Regions from separate parts of the Homo sapiens genome. Here region 1 is linked to region 2. Evidence: fine-mapped expression QTL. Tissue or cell type: whole blood. Region 2 holds a variant in brackets; the other region holds the start of a gene. All regions are shown on one strand. Distances are between the middles of the regions.

Region 1 (5,372 bases), 60 kb before region 2:
GCATGGCGCACACCTGTGATCCCAGCTACTCGGGAGGCTGAGGCAGGAGAATTGCTTGAACCTGGGAGGCAGAGGTTGCAGTGAGCTGAGATCACACCACTGCGCTCCAGCCTGGGTGACAGATTGAGACTCTGTCGCAAAAAAAAGAGAAGCCAGATAGCCGAGGTCTGGATCTTGTGGGGTCTGGATCTTGTGAGGTCTGGATCTTGCAGGGTCTATATCTTGAGGGGTCTGGATCTTGCGGGGTCTGGATCTTGTGGGGTCTGGATCTTGCGGGGTCTGGATCTTGGCTCTCTCGTTTCCTGGCTCTGTGATTTTGGGCAAATGACTTCACCTCCCTGAGGCTCAGTTTCCTTATTTGTAAAATGCAGACAATGGCACCGCCTAAGATATAATCCGTTTATGCAGATCAGATGAGAGATTTGCCACGAACTCACTTGAGTAGTTGGGAGGGGCACGTGCATGTGAGGAGTGTCAGCATCTCACCAAAGCTAGTAAACCTGTCTCAGAGCGCTTGGCGGCTTGAGGGGAACTCTAAAGACCATTCAGCCTGGTGTGTGTCATCAAGAATGAGGGATTGGATAACCACAGCTGAAACCTGTTCAGACAGCGAGGAGATGGAAATCTTGTCAAATGGGAGACCTGAGCTCTTAAACCTGACTTGGCCACTTCCAAATATCTGGAAGTCTATTTCAGAAGAGTTAAATTATTCTGTGCAGGTCTGGGTCATAACCAGGTGCCAAAAACATTAAGTGAGGTGGTAGATTTCGGCTCAGTCTTTGGATAAACGTTTCTGAACCAAGGAAATGGCTTCTTAGGAAGTAATGCACCCCCTGTCACTGGAGGGCTTCAAGCCCTGGCTAGCAGGCTCCTCATCCGGGAGCCTGGGAGTCAGGCATGATGATGGCTGAGTCCCCTTTCCTCCCCTGGGGTTGTGGGGGTCCTGGCAGCCTGTCCCAGCCCTGGTCCCTTGCTCAACAGCTGCCCACCCCGTGCCTCCGAATGCGCCACTCGCAAGTCACCCTTCCTTAGTGCCCGCACACACCAGAGAGGCCTCATATACTGTGGGGTTGTTTCATCTCCCCCAGAGCACCAGAGCCCCTCAGCCCTCTTGCTCTGTCTCTTTGAGCAGAAATCATCACTAACTTCTCAAGCACGGCGCTCATATAACCCTCAAGCCCTTTGAGGGCAGCTCCAGAATCCAGCTCTGCCTGCTTGGTCTTTGAATTCCTAGAGCCTGCTCTCGGGAATGGCCTTGACAGAGCCGACTTCCCGCTGGAAGGATACTGGGGGCTCCTCCAGCACATTCTCTCACAGGGGGCAGCACTTAGAGCCCAAAACGGGAAGGGAAGGAGGGTCTGGCTCGAGTGGCAGGACCCCATGGTTGCTACTGTGCGTAGGCTGAGAGTCTCCTCGCTGTTACGTAACTGAGGACTTCTTCCCTCCCTATTTTAGATCCTGCTGCCATCTGCCCTGATTTTCCGCATCACCAGCTCTGGGCTGGAGGTTAGATCTGGCTGGACACCCAGCTCTACCCCTCACTTGGTGACAGACTTGGGAAAGCCTGTTTCTGCAAAATAAGATAACCCCACCCTGCCTATCCTGCCTGGGTTGCTGTGAGAATCAGGTGAGAGGAAGCTGTGGTGGCTGGGTAGCAGGACCTGCACTTGGCCCCTGTGCCTGGTTGCTGTCTGGCCAACCCAACCTGGGGCTGCCTGAGCCAGGGGAGCCTCTGCTTGCTCATGTCGGCTCCTATATCAACACAGTTTGCACAGGTTTGCAGAGCCAGGCCCTGTTCGAAATACAGGCAGTGAACAGACCTCACAAATGGGGAGTCTTTGTCAGACCCCCTGCCATGGGTGGCAAGGGTGCAGACCTAGCAGCTTGTGACAGGCGGGGCCAGGCTGGCTGTCACCTGCTCACACAGCCTCTTGGCCCCGGGTGGAATGCTAAGCACAGCAGGTGCTCTGTAACAAGGCACTGTCAGGCGCATCTTGCAAGAAGCCCTTGCCCAGCCTCCAACCATCAGGGGATGGGTTTGTGCTGGCTGGAGTCACCAGACCATAGGTCCGCACAGGCAAAGGCCTCCTTCCTACTTACTCTGACAAGAAGGAGCGGCTCTCTGCCAGCAGACAAGCAGTGAGGGTCTAGGTGCCTGGTGACCCCAACTGGCTTTGCTTCCAGGGCTGTTGCGAGCCACAGTGTTATGTGATAGTGAAGAGTGCCACTCAGGAGACTTTTGTTCTGGCCCTGGTCCTGCCGTGGATTTACTGTGACACTGAGTGAGTCACTTTCCTTCTTTGGGCCTCAGTTATGTCATCTATAAAATGGGAATATACACCTGTTTTGTCCTCTCACTCTTTTTTTGTTTTGTTGTTGTTGTTTTGTTTTTTGAGACAGAGCCTCACTCTGTTGCCCAGGCTGGAGTGCAGTGGCATGATCTCGGCTCACTACAACCTCTGCCTCTGGGTTCAGTCGATTCTCCCTGCCTCACCCTCCCGAGTAGCTGGGGTTACAGGCGCCCACCACCACGCCTGGCTAATTTTTGTGCTTTTAGTAGAGACAGGGTTTCACCACGTTGGCCAGGCTGGTCTTGAACTCCTGACCTCAGGCGATCCGACCGCCTGGGCCTCCCAAAATGCTGGGATGACAGGTGTGAGCCACCGCGCCCGGCCACGCACTCTGGTAAAGACGAAAACTACGTCCTGCGCCCCGGTAGGTTCTAAGCTGCCGGAAAGTGAATGGTGAATATGAGGTTTGAGTTAGCACTGGAGTTATTTGGAGGGATGGTAGCCTGGGCTTTTCAATCACTGGAAACGATTAAAAGCCAGAACAACCTGCACAGGCCGGCCCAGCAGTTCTAGCTTACTCAGAAGATCCCAGTAGACGCACATGCAGCTTCTCTGACGTTCGGGTCTGCTGATGGGGACCCAGAGTATGTGGCCCTCCTTCCTCTAGTTCCCAGGCAGGGACGCACACGTGCAACTCCAAGGCTCCATCTATTTTCCTTTAATAAACTTCAGCACGGACACAAATTCGCCCAACATGTAAAAGTGCAATTCCGAAAGGATCCTGCTAGAACAAGGTCCACGGTACAAAAGCATCCTATGGTTATGTAACTGCAGCGGCCACCAAGCGTCCCCCTCTGGGCTCTGGAGGGTTTCGGCCCTGCCTGCCTCCCCCCCTCCTCCTGGGGCAGCTGGGACAGGGGACCCCTGTTTGAAGACAGCGGGGACAACGGCCCGGGAGGCAGCTGAATTGCCCATTGTGAGGCCCTTCTTCCTTGGCACTGCCTGAACCCCGTAGCCCACTCCGGCTGCCCGGGCTCTTCTGCCTTCTCCTGGCACCAGCCTCCGGGCCCGGGCCAGCTGCTAGGAGAGCGAGAACACTGTTTCTGAAGGGTGCTGCTTGCTTCTTTGTTCCCGGTTTCCGAAGCGCGAATCCCGAACGCCGTGAGAAACCTCAGGCTCGGGCGGCAGCGCGGGAGTCTGGGGCGCTGGAGGCCGGCGCCGGCTGCGGAGGAGGAGCGCCCTCTAGCGGCAGGTCCGCCCAGGGAGAGGCGGAAACGCGGAGTCTGATTCGAAGGCGGGCACTGGGGACCCTGCCCCGGGCCGAAAGCCCCCTGGAGGACAGTGGTGTTTGGCTTCGGTCCCAACATACAGGCCCTGGGCAGTCGCAGGGATGGCAGCTTTCAAACTGAAACCCAAGAAGTGATCATGCAGACCCTGCCTCAAGTGGCATCACTTCTTAATTGAAAAGAGGCCGAGGCGAGGCGGGAATGAAGGCCACGCTGAAGCCCTGCAGAACAGGGGTGTGTGTGTGTGTGTGTGTGTGTGTGTGTGTGTGTGTGTGTGTGTGTGTGTGTGTGTGTGTGTGTGTGTGTACATGTGTGTAAGGTGTGTGTGTGTGTGTGTGTGTGTGTGTGTGTGTACATGTGTGTAAGCACCACGTGAGGCAAGCAGGGACCCCAAATCCACTGCTAGGGGAGATGCCACAGTGCCCTGCCATGGCACCACTGCTCGTGCCAAGCCTGCCCCATCGACACCGGCCCCACCCAAGGCAAAACCAAGCAGACCCAAACCAGTAACAACTTATCCCCTTAGCCAGAGAGCACCTCCACACAAGTCTATCCTGAGTCCTAAAAGAGGATGGAAAAATCTCAAGTAAAAATCTCATGCCTGTAATCCCAGCACTTTGGGAGGCCAAGGCAGGCGGATCACTTGAAGTCGGGAGTTCGGGACCAGCCTAGCCAACATGGTGAAACCCCATCTCTACTAAAAATACAAAAATTAGCCCGGCATGGTGGTGGGTGCCTATAACCCCAGCTACTTGGAAGGCTGAGGCAGGAGAACCGCTTGAACCAGGGAGGCGGAGGTTGCAGTGAGCGGAGATGGTGCCATTGCACTCCAGCCTAGGGGACTGAGCAAGACTGTGTCTGGAAAAACAAAAATCTCCAGAAACATTCCCACCCCCTCCATACAGCCAGCTCTGAGTCACTGGCTGCTGGCTGGCCAGTCACACAGCACCATGGACATGCAGAGGTACCAGTGGGCACTTGGTGTGTGCTGCCCAGATGAGGACACAGAGTTAGTCAGAAGATTCTCGGGCAAATGGATCCAAAACAGTCCTGGAATGCAAATGTGAAGTATTTCCACAGCCGTGGCAGGAACACATAACTGGCACTATTTATAAGCGATAAAAGGGTTATTTCATGCATCCTCTTTAAGCTGCAAATGCTTCATTTACAAAAGAAAAAAACCTGTCCTTTTCATTCATGAGACTGGCTTAAGGATCAAATGAGATCTGTTTTTAATATAAAGATGTTTTCTTAAAATCTCTGTATGAAATTATCTCCGGAGAGATAGATTCACCATGTTTGCCCTGAGATTTAGAGGCCTCTGCCTGCCACTCCACACCCTGTTTGTGAAGGCCCAAGTCACTCACTATGCAAAGAAGTCATTCCCTCTAGTTAGTGTTAAAACCAGTTATGGGTCTTCCTGGCATGGTGGATAATCCACACGTGGATAATCAAGAGTTGACTATATGGGTTCCTCCCTCCCCTCCCCTTCCACCAGGGATCCCTGACAGAGGCCACAGCGAGACTCTTCAGCGGATGTAGATCATGTCGGAGATGGCTCCAGGCAAGTGGGTCATGATCTGCATTCGCAGCCACCAGTAGTAGTCCATGGGGTGGTAGCGGGTGTAGGGGGTGGTGGCGGTCAGGGCGTGTGTGACAGCATCGATGACAGGGGACGTGTCTGTGGAGCCACTGCTGCAGTAGGTCTCCATCTTGGCGATCTTTTCATCAAAGTACTTCTTGCCGTAGTCCTTGCGCACGACCTCAGGCAGCTCCTCCCACATCTTCTTGGCGA
Region 2 (5,372 bases):
TCCTTCTATGGAACAAAGTTCCATCAAAGCCAATTTAAAAGCCTATGTAAAAAAATAATTACTCTGGCTGCATTGTATACAAATAATTAGGCCAAGTATAGTAAAGCAAACCAGTCCTACCATGATTTTTCTTTAGTACAAACGGGAAACTGAAGAGAGAAACATTATGATTCAAAACTATAGTACAGCAGTTGTTAGATTCTAGTCTTGCCTAACGTTTCTTGATTTTTATTATTTTTTAAAGTTTGAACTGAATTCTAATTTTTCTTGGCTCCAAGTCTTCAAAGTAATTTTTGTTACTTTGTTTTCAATTTTTTTCTTCTTCTTTTCCCATTTTTCCTAATTTGGAGTCACTGAAAACTGAGCTGTGCTTTCATAAAGCCCCACAAACTGAAGCTAGACAACCTTCAGAAGAAAATAATAGCAACCTTATTTACATACATTAGCCACTTTCATACCTACCTACTGATGTATAAACTTCAGAGTAATGTGGCCTATATCGATTTTCCAGGATTGTTCTTTTGTTTGTTGTTGTTTTTCTACCTTCTTCCCCCTGTTTTCTCTTCAAAGGACATGAGACTTCACAACCTTCTAAATATGAGCTTTCCTAATAACTTGGGACCTACCTATCTAGGAATAAACCATCCTAGCCATGAGACACCAGATGAAACCTGGGACGAGGGACTCATTTTCTCCTAAAATGCTTTCTCCAAAAGATTTTAAAAAGAAAAGGAGGGAAACGTGAAAGGAAGATAAATCTTGGGGTCCCAAAATCACTAAGCTAAGGGAAGAGTCAAGCTGGGAACTGCTTAGGGCCAACCTGCCTCCCGTTCTGTTCAAAGTCATCCCTCTGCTCACTGAGAAAAATGCATATCTAATTGCCTCCTTTGGAAAGGCTAATCAGAAACTCAAAAGAGTGCAATTGTTTGTCTCTCATCTACCCGTGACCTGGAAGCCCCCTCCCTGTCCTGCTTTTGCCTCCAGTTGTCCTACCTTTCTGGGCCAAACCAATGTTCATTTTACATATGTTGATTGCTTCTCATGTCTCTCTAAAATGTATAAAACCAAGCTGTGCTCTGACCACCTTGGGCACATGTCGTCAGGACCGCTTGAGGCAGTGTTACAGGTGCACATCCTCAACCTTCGCAAAATAAACTTTCTGAATTAACTGAGAGACCTGTCTGAGATTTTGGGGGTTCATGGAGGGAAATGAGGCACCTGAGATTTTGGGGGTTTATGGAGGGAAATGAAGCATGTATGTAAGCTAAATGAATCATTAGAAGTCCTGTAAGTCTTCTAAAAGAGGGACAAATAAATGTCATCAGAGTTCTAATAAGGGTTCAGGATAGGCTTTGTAGAAGAGGTAGTATCCTGAAAGATTCTCAGTCAGAATGAAGTACCCTAAAAGAGGCCCCTGACCTGAGAGATCATGGTGTTCTCTCCTGTCTGTTTGCCTGCTAGCTCACACTCTCCTCCAATACCAGCTGAATTTAATCATTCCCAGCCCCTCCCTTGCTGGATCTGGCCCTGCCCGGGGTCTGAATGCCCCTGGTCTTCTCTGCCCTCAGTATTAAGTGCTCAGTGTTAATTCAGGACAGTGCAGGTTAAATCCTGCCCTTAGGCAGCCACCTCCAAGTCCTCACAGAGCCAGCGTGCAGCCTGCTTTGCTGAGTTCTGCTGGGCGATAGGGAATAAAAACACTGTCTACTGCCCCAAACCCCACAGTCTTCTGTTTGTTTTGATGCAATTGAATTTTATTAAAGTTTTGTGGGTTTTTTTTTTTTGGCTGGAAATCATACCCTTAATCTGTAGAATTTTATAGGTATTGAGTAGCTTTTTCTGGAATTGACAGCAAAGGAAAGAAGCCCAGTATATTATTCTATGCTGCTTCTAAAACGAAGCTGTGGTGCTCAGAATCTAGTGTGTTGAAAAGAGCCTTTGACAGCTGATCTTAACGTGACTGTAATGCTGAAATCTGTGGATGAATGAGAACTGGAGGAGCTGCCTTTTCCTTGCAGTGAATGAGCAAGTAAAACAAGTGCTTGACCTCAAGGGAAAAAGATGGAGAGTATCAGGCATCCCCACCCACTTTCTATCACTTAACTCTTACGTATTCATTAATTGAGTGTTTGTTTAAGCACAAGCATTTTGTGCATGGGTATGGGTTGTCTGTAAATTTAAGCAATGTTCTTTTGAGGTAACTAGGATCTTGGAAGAGGGAACAATATGAGGATATTTGATTAAAAAAAAAAACACCTCTGCCCATCCTGCCCTAAGCTACAGCAACCCATGCAATTTATTCATTCATTCAGTTTGCACTGATTGAGTCCTTATAATATCTCACTGATTGTGCTATATTCTTAGAGTGGAATCATAAATCAATGCAGGCTCCCTGTTTGCAATAATACTACAATTTAGCAATAAATGGTTCATTTCTATGTACCAGCCACTGTGACAAGTGCCCTCTATGCATTATTTCACTTACTTTTGCAACAATTCTAAAAGTAGCCTAAGATTATTCCCATTTGCAACTGAACACATTGACAGTTAGCAGGTTCAAATAACTTTCCCACAACAATACAACCAGGAAGTGGCAAAGACAGATCCCACCCAAGTCTGTCCTACTCCAAATGCTTTGGGTTAAGCACACCACCAATTGTTCTGAGGTTCTTTCTTTGAAGAAAGGGATTTTTAAAATCCCAGTTTCTGTAGCTATTTGGAGTACAGTTTTTTTTTTCCTTTTTCTAGAGTTACAGGAACTCAGCATGGAGTACAGAATTTTTTATAATCAGCTGGGCATCATTCATGTGGATAATCCAACAGAAGCTGGAATGGCTTTGTTACACAGAAATTTCATTCAATTAGTACAATACAG[G/A]TGGCAATTTCTGATGTCTTCAATGAGGAAAAGTTATAGGTTCTGGTTGATTATATTGATATGTTTTGGCTGTGTCCCTACCCAAATATCATCTTGAACTGTAGCTCCCATAATTCCCATGTGTTGTGGGAGGGACCTGGTGGGGGAAAATTGAATCATGAGGGTAGTTTCCCCCATACTTTTCTCGTGGTAGTGAATAAGTTTCTCCCATACTTCTCTCTTGGTAGTGAATAAAAACTGATGGTTTTACAAGGGGAAACCCCTTTTGCTTGGCTTTCATCCTCTCTCTTGTCTGCCACCATGTAAGACGTGCCTTTTGCCTTCTGCCATGATTGTGAGGCCTCCCCAGCCATGTGGAACTGTGAGTCCATTAAACCTCTTTTTCTTTATAAATTACTCAGTCTTGGGTATGCCTTTATCAGCAGCAAGAAAACAGACTAATACAGTAAATTGGTACTGGTAGAGTGGGGCACTGCTGTCAGGGTACCTGAAAATGTGGAAGCAACTTTGGAACTGGGTAACAGGCAGAGGTTAGAACAGTTTGGAGGGCTCAGAAGAAGACAGGAAAAATGTGAAAAAGTTTGGAACTTCCTAGAGACTTGTTAAATGGCTTTGGCCAAAATTCTGACAATGATATGGACAATGAAATCCAGGCTGAGGTGGTCTTAGATGGAGATGAGGCACTTGGGAACTGGAGTAAAGGTGACTCTTGTTATGTTTTAGCAAAGAGACTGGCAGCATTTTGCCCCTGCCCTAGAGATTTGTGGAACTTTGAACTTGAGTGAGATGGTTTAGGATATCTGGCAGAAGAAATTTCTAAGTAGCAAAGCATTCAAAGTGTGACTTGGGTGCTGTTAAAAGCATTCAGTTTTAAAAGGGAAACAGAACATAAAAGTTTGGAAAATTTGCAGCCTGACGCAATACAAAAGAAAAACGCATTTTCTGAGGAGAAATTCAAGCTGGCTGCAGAAATTTGCATAAGTAATGAAGAGCCAGATTGCCAAGATGATAGAGAAAATGTCTCCAGGGTATGTCAAAGACCTTTGTGGCAGCCCCCTCCCATCACAGGCCTATAGGCCTAGAAGGAGAAAATGTTTGCGTGGCCTGGGCCCAGGGGCCCCCTGCTGTGTGCATCTTAGGGACTTGGCACCCTACGTCCCAGCTGCTCTAGCCATGGCTAAAAGGTGCCAAGGTACACCTCAGGCTGCGGCTTCAGAGGGTGCAAACTCTAAGACTTGGCAGCTTCCATGTGGTGTTGAGCCTGTGGGTGCACAGAAGTCAAGAATTGAGGATTGGGAACCTCCACCTAGATTTCAGAGGAGGTATGGAAATAACTGGAGGTCCAGGCAGAATTTTATTGCAGGGCTGGGACCCTCACAGAGAACCTCTGCTAGGGCAGTGAAGAAGGGAAATGTGGGGTTGAAGCCTCCACACAAAGTCCCCACTAGGTTACTGCCTAGTGCGGCTGTGAGAGGAGGGCCACCGTCCTCCAGCCCCCAGAATGGTAGGTCCACTGACAGCTTGCACCATGTGCCTGGAAAAGTCACAGACACTCAATGCCAGCCCATGATAGCAGCCAGGAGGGAGGGTGTACCCTGCAAAGCCACAGGGGCAGAGCTGCCCAAGACCATGGGAACCCACCTCTTGCATCAGCATGACCTGGATGTGAGACATGGAGTCAAAGGAGCTTTAAGATTTGGCTGCCCTGCTGGATTTTGGACTTTCATGGAACCTTTGGCCCCTTCGTTTTGACCCATTTCTCCCATTTGGAATGGGTATATTTATCCAATGCCTGTACCTCCATTGTATCTAGGAAGTAACTAACTTGCTTTTTGTTTTTTAGGCTCATAAGTGGAAGAGACTTGCCTTATCTCGGGTAAGACTTTGGACTGTGGACTTTTGAGTTAATGCTGAAATGAGTGAAGACTTTGGGAAACTGTTGGGAAGGCATGATTGGTTTTGAAATGTGAAGACATGAGATTTGGAAGGGGCCAGGAGTGGAATGATATGGTTTGACTCTGTCCCCACCCAAATCTCATCTTGAATTATAGCTACCATAATTCCCATGTGTTGTGGAAGGGACCCAGTGGGAGATAATTGAATTGTTGAGGTGGTTCCCCCCGTAGTTTTCACATGCTAGTGAATAAGTCTCATGAGATCTAATGGTTTTACAAGGGGAAACCCCTTTCACTTGGCTTTCGTTCTCTCTCTTGCCTGCCACCATGTAAGATGTGCCTTTTGCCTTCTGCCATAATTGTGAGGCCTCTCCAGCCATGTGGAACTGTGAGTCCATTAAACCTCTTTTTCTTTATAAATTACCCATTCTTGGGTATGCCTTTATCAGCAATAAGGAAATGGATGAATACACATATAAACTTTGAAAGATGGCCAAGCATAGTAGTTCATGCCTGTAATCTCAACACTTTGGGAGAACAAGATGGGAGGATCACTTGACCCTAGGAGTTCAAGACCAGCCTAGGCAAACAGCAAGACCTTG

Evidence for each region. PIP is the estimated chance that this variant, and not a neighbour inherited with it, causes the effect.
Region 1: LINC02012 starts here. The variant in region 2 is the best candidate, but not a certain one, in a credible set for the expression of LINC02012 in whole blood (TOPMed, PIP 0.53).

Annotation. Positions count from the first base shown.
Region 1 is chr3:197,506,789-197,512,160 of GRCh38, forward strand. It overlaps LINC02012 (long intergenic non-protein coding RNA 2012), which reads right to left and starts at 2,873. Exons shown (of 1, transcript NR_145451.1): 1 at 1-2,873. It overlaps BDH1 (3-hydroxybutyrate dehydrogenase 1), which reads right to left. Exons shown (of 8, transcript NM_203314.3): 8 at 2,995-5,372. The coding sequence ends at 5,107. RefSeq lists a silencer at 1,410-1,704 and an enhancer at 4,964-5,372.
Region 2 is chr3:197,566,520-197,571,891 of GRCh38, forward strand. It overlaps a transcript of BDH1 not described here. Among named protein-coding and RNA genes, the nearest start is that of BDH1, 13 kb to the left of the region's middle. The variant G/A (reference allele first, on the strand shown) is at 2,876.